Linked DNA regions of Homo sapiens: region 2 is linked to region 1. Evidence: fine-mapped expression QTL. Tissue or cell type: whole blood. Region 1 holds a variant in brackets; the other region holds the start of a gene. All regions are shown on one strand. Distances are from middle to middle.

What was found. PIP is the estimated chance that this variant, and not a neighbour inherited with it, causes the effect. A credible set is the group of variants that fine-mapping cannot tell apart.
Region 2: FAM170B starts here. The variant in region 1 is the best candidate, but not a certain one, in a credible set for the expression of FAM170B in whole blood (TOPMed, PIP 0.57).

Annotation. Positions count from the first base shown.
Region 1 is chr10:49,169,103-49,171,862 of GRCh38, forward strand. All of the region lies in intron 1 of TMEM273 (transmembrane protein 273), which reads right to left. Among named protein-coding and RNA genes, the nearest start is that of TMEM273, 18 kb to the right of the region's middle. RefSeq lists an enhancer at 1,700-2,199. The variant C/T (reference allele first, on the strand shown) is at 1,270.
Region 2 is chr10:49,132,682-49,135,441 of GRCh38, forward strand. It overlaps FAM170B (family with sequence similarity 170 member B), which reads right to left and starts at 1,340. Exons shown (of 2, transcript NM_001164484.2): 1 at 1,126-1,340. The coding sequence starts at 1,237. All of the region lies in intron 1 of FAM170B-AS1 (FAM170B antisense RNA 1), which reads left to right.

The DNA of each region.
Region 1 (2,760 bases):
ATCCAGTGAACTAACAGATACAACACCACCAAAACCATCAAGCCCTAGGGCTGCATGGACTTGGGCTGGGGATGGGCAAATGGTAAGATCCAAGTCTGAGTCTCACATTCAAACTTCCAGGCAAAGGCAGGAGAGTGTGCTACCACTCCTGTTTCTCACAAAGGGAAACAAGTGACTTCACTGGGAAAGACCAGATGGTATGATGAAGGAAGCATCATAGCAAAGACATCCTCCACCCAACCCTGTCTGCTGACCACACTCAGTGATGCCCAGAGTGGCGTGGTAGGTTGGAGCTCTGCAGGGGACAGCTTTGCTCTGTGTGTGTTTGGTGGAGAGAGGAATTGTCCTGCTAGAGTTCAGAATTTTTTCCGGCAGTCTAATTTTTTAGACTGGTAAAGATTCCCCAAGCTTTTTCTAAAGCAAAAGTTCTCAGCTTTGTTCTAATCACAGATATTTTTGAAAATTCAATGACTTATCTTCTCTCTTTCCCACAGATCACAAGCCCCATGTGAGCACATTTGCTCACACACACAGACACCACCGCACACAATATGACTCTGATTTTGTCTGTTCTCTGAAGCCCCAATCAGCTTCATTCCATTGTCTTATTGTTTTTTTTAAGTCAATCTTGCTGCTCCAGCTAGGTTGAACATCGTTCCGGACATGGGGCAAAGGCTTATATTCAATGGAAGGCTGTGGGTGGGAGCACATTTCCAGACTGACACTCCCAACTCAGAGCTGTGTGTGCTACGTCTTCACCCTTTCCTGGGACGGGACCCTTTGCTGACACCTCTGATCTCTCTCTGCCTTTACTGGGCAGAAGGCAGGAGGACAGGGGAGGGCAGGGCCTCAGTGGGTGGGGCCAGACCCCTGAGCCCCAGGCTCACCCCACGCCCTCCCCCTGCCACACTAGCATGTTGCTTGGTCCCCCCTCCCATCCTCCCTTGGTGGGCATTGCTCTCACTTGCAGTGTTGGCATGGAAACTTCATGCTAGCCTGAGATGAAATCCGAGCAGAGAGGAAGGAAGGACTCAGGTTAGAAAGGGTGAGAAAGACATAGGTACACACAGAGACACTCAAGAGACACACTCAGGCTGTGCTTGAGTCACTCAGACCATCATTGGGAGGGAAGAGAAAGGAAGAGGAGAAAGCCCTAACATCAAAAGGCCCCAGCCCTGGCCTTGGTTTCTCCAACAGCATCACGGTCTCCATTCTCGCCAGGCTGTCCTGCATCCTTCCTCATTGACTTCACCCCCCAAATGTGTTGCC[C/T]TGAACCCTCAGCTCCTTCTGCCCCTCTCTGTGGCTGGGACCCCTGGCTGAGGTTCAGCTCACCCCCAAAAAGAGGCCAGTCCCTTAGGCACCATCCTCTATGTCCCATCCTGTGTCCCCTCCAAGCTGTGAGGCTTCCCCTAATCCCTGGCCCCAAAGAGGCTCTATTTTTGGTGGTCTGACTTAGGGACTGAGTGAATTCCCACTGCCACCCCAACTCCACCACCACCTTGAGTCACTTGCAGGGAGACCAACGTGGGCAGATAACCCAGCTGTGCACTCAAACAGCCAAGGGCCCAGCCCTTCCTGCGAGCCAGCCCCACAGCCACTCAGTGGCAGCCTTTCCCCTCCTCAGGGAGGGAAATCCCTCCATGCAGCCCTCCTGTGCTTGGAGCTGTGACTCTACACACTCATGAGCCCTTGGGTGAGGGTCCATGCTCAGCACAGCAGCCTGGCCGGCCCCACCCCTGCATCCTGCTAGGGTCATGAGCTGGGGAGGACCCCCTGGGCCATAGACCCCCTGCAAGCCTCCAGCACTGGCTGATGTCCCCTGGCTCTGCAAAGTAGCTGGAGGATGGCTGGCCCTAGCAGGCCTGCTTGGACATCACAGCCAGAGGTCTCTGGAGTGCCTCGGCTGCATTTAGATCTGTGGGAGACCCCAGGAGGAAGCCCACGAGGACCAGCAGGAACTGCACTGCATTTTCTCTGTGGGAATTCTCCGAGATCTCATGCAAGAAGGAGGAGGGAGCTTGGCACCCACAGGAGAGTCCTAGGGGACTGAGGTAAGGCTGTGTGAAACAGGCACCCTTCTAACCTGTAGATTTGCTGAGGCCATAATAGGCACAGTTCTGGCCAAATCTGGCTTCACCCCATCTGACTGCTACCACCGACTGCATAAGTCTGGCTGACCACCTCCCTTGAACTGTTCACACTGGGCAGGGTCAGAGAGCCAGAATACAGGCCCTTGCTGCTGCCTAGAGCAGAGAGCAGAGGGCAGAGGGCTACCTCCAGAGGACTTGCTGAGATGCGGGGGCTTTCCACAGCCTCCACCTGTGTAGCTTCCATGTGTGGTCAGATCAGCCTCTGACCATAGAAGCTTTTCCTAATTTGCACAAGGGCACTCGATGGGCTCTAGATTCTAGAGTTTCTGCTTTCTCCCTGATGCCCCATTTGGACCTGGTACTCTGTGCCTCCCTGACAAAATAGTGGGCTCCAGCCCCCTCACAGCTGCCATTCCCACCTCAGGCCTGCAGCACACAGATTGCTCTGTAAGTGGCTCTCCCAACAGCAAGAAGCCCTCTGCAAGAGTGGATGTCCCTCTGTCTTATGGTCCCCCAGAAACATGGGAGGGCAGCCACCCCAGCTCCTGGGGAGGAAGATGGCAGGGCTGCTCTACACAAGCTGAGATGAGTTATTTTGGAGAGAGCTGAAGGCACGGCCTAGCTTTGCCCCATCTCACTTGGAATCTGACCTGCTGAGAGCCCATCCCCG
Region 2 (2,760 bases), 36 kb before region 1:
ATCAACTGGGGAATAGGTAAGCTGACTGAGGTGTATCCATATGATGCAACCTGTTAAATCCATGAACCACTGAGACGTGCAACAATACGGATGAATCCTGAATGCATTATGCTAAATAAAAGAAGCCAATTAAAAAGGCCATGTAGTCATAAGAGAATGTGAACAAAAAAAAAAAAGAGTCCATGTCGTATATGATTTTATTCAGATGACATTCTAGAAAAGGCAAATTTTTAGCAACAGAGAACAGCTCAGTGGTTGCCCAGAGCTGGGGACGGGGTGAGAGGAGACTGGTCATAATAAGGCACAAGGGGACTTTTAGGGGTTTTGAAAAATCTTCTTTATCATGACTGTGTTGGTGGTTCCACAAATGTACATGTGTCAAACTTCTTTAAATTGTGCATTTAAAATTGCTGAAGTCTGTGTGCATAAAAGACACCTCAGTAAAGCCCATTTAAAAAACAACACATGCAAAGTGCCTTGGCCAAGCCACCCAGACCCACCATCCTCTTCAACATTTGTGACCTGTCTTCACCTTCCCGAGGGGGCATCTCACTATCTCCTTCAACACTTACTGTGTCCCTCTTGCCATGGAAGTGCTTGCCAAGTTTAATATTCAAAACAACCCTAAGAAATTATATTGTTAGGATTCCCATTCAACAGAGTAGGAAAGAGAGGCATGGAGTTTGAATGAGTGGTGGAGCCATTGGGCCCCCAGAGCTGGTGTGACACTTAGGTGCTGCCCACAGACACGTCCCCGCGGTCTTCAAATTGATGTTCTAGATTAACTTTCATCATTTTGTTATAAAGGAATTTTTTATTTCACTGCTGAAATCACAGGATGGACGTGTTGTTTTCTCAAATACACATTAAAATAAATACATAATTATAAACATTTTACATTTTCATTCTCATATCCCCTGAAAACACCTTATATACTCATAACAGCCTCAGTCACACCAAGTGTCCCATAAATATCAATTTCCTTTCCCTCCACATCTATGTTTATGGTCAACACAACCATTTGGTAACAGTATCAGGAGGCAACCTGGCACTGTCCCTTCCCATCAGGGCTTCCTTCCCAGGGAGCACAGCTGGCTGACCTTCCAGGCCTTTCTTTTCACCTACCTGGCCAGAACACTTCCACACTCTCCTCAGTGGACTCAGGGCTGGTCAAGCTGAGGGTGGTCCCATCGGTGGGTGACTGTTCTCCCCTGTGATCTGTGAAGTAGCATTTCATGATTTGAAATGAGTGCCCAGGGTGTCGGTGCTCCAGCTGTTCAGTGAGAGTTGGCTGGGGCTGTACTGAAGGCCTCCAGCTGGCCCCAGCCAGAGTGGACACTGAGCTCCCCATGGTCGCTAAGATCCTAGCTCTACTGTGTGACCTCATCGATGGCACTGGTCTGTTCTGTGACCCATGGCGAGGGCAGAGGCTGAGGCTGGATACCAGGAGAGGCTTCCCAACATGTTCTCATTTCCCCATGGGAACTCCTTTTCTGTCTTGTGTATTATCATGGACACACAGAAACACAAAACACACATACTCTTAACTCCTTAGACACACATAAAAACACAAACACATAAACACAGAGACACTTGTATACACTTAAGCATGCATGGAACCGCTGTCTTAGTCCATCTGTGTGGCTTACAAAGGGATACCTGAGGTTGGGTAATTTATAAAAGAAAGAAGTGTATTGGGCTCATGTTTCTGCAGCCTGTACACAAAGCATAGTGCCAGCATCTGCTTCTGGTGAGGGCCTTAGGAAGCTTCCATTCTCAGCAAATGGGGAAGGGGAGCAGGTGTGTTTAGATCACATGGGTAAGAGAGGAAGGAAGAAAGAGTGGAGGAAGTGACAGGCTCTTTTCAACACTCAGTTCTCACAGAACTAAGAGTGAGAACTCTTTACCACGAGGGTGGCACTGAGCCCTTCATGAGGGATTTGTCCCCGTCACCCAAACACCTCCCTCTACGCCCACCTCTCACATTGGATATCAAATTTCAACATGAGATTTGAAGGGGACACATGTCCATACTATGTCACTCACACACAAAGAAACGCATACATGATCACTCAGACACACATATACGCTGGAACACATATGGCACACACAGTAACATAAACATATGTACGTGTGTTCACATAGACACATAACATGCTCACACATACAAATTCACACACATATTTACTTAACCACACACACATACATGCACACAAATTCATGCCAGATTAATTAACCATACATAGGCTCACATACATACAGTCAGCAGCCAACATAAAATGACCCTGCTTCCCAGTGTGGAAAATCTCTCCTTCTCTCCCCCATCTTACGTCCCCACGCTGACCCTGTTTAGCTCCTCAACCCTCCACAACCCCACCCCACCCCTCCCCTCCCCTCTCCTCTACTCACTCCCTTGCTCAGTTCCTGTGACTCCAGACACTTCACTGCTCCCGGACATGCCCGGCATCCTCCCCTCACGGGCTCTGGGCTCTCGCACTTGCTCTTCCTTGTGCCTGTTCCAGGCTTTCCCCTAGGTTCCTGTGTGGCTCTCTCTCCTTCCGGTCTCCTCTGAAACATCACCTGGTCAGAGGAGCCTGCCTGGCACCCCCAGGAAAAGAGCTTTCTTTGGCCCTACAACTCTCTGTCACCTTACCCTGCTTTATTTTTCCATGATAGCATTTACCACCCTAGGCTGTATATAATGTCTGTGTGTGTATCTCATGGGTTTACCTGTATCTGTCTTCTCCTCCTTAGATGTAA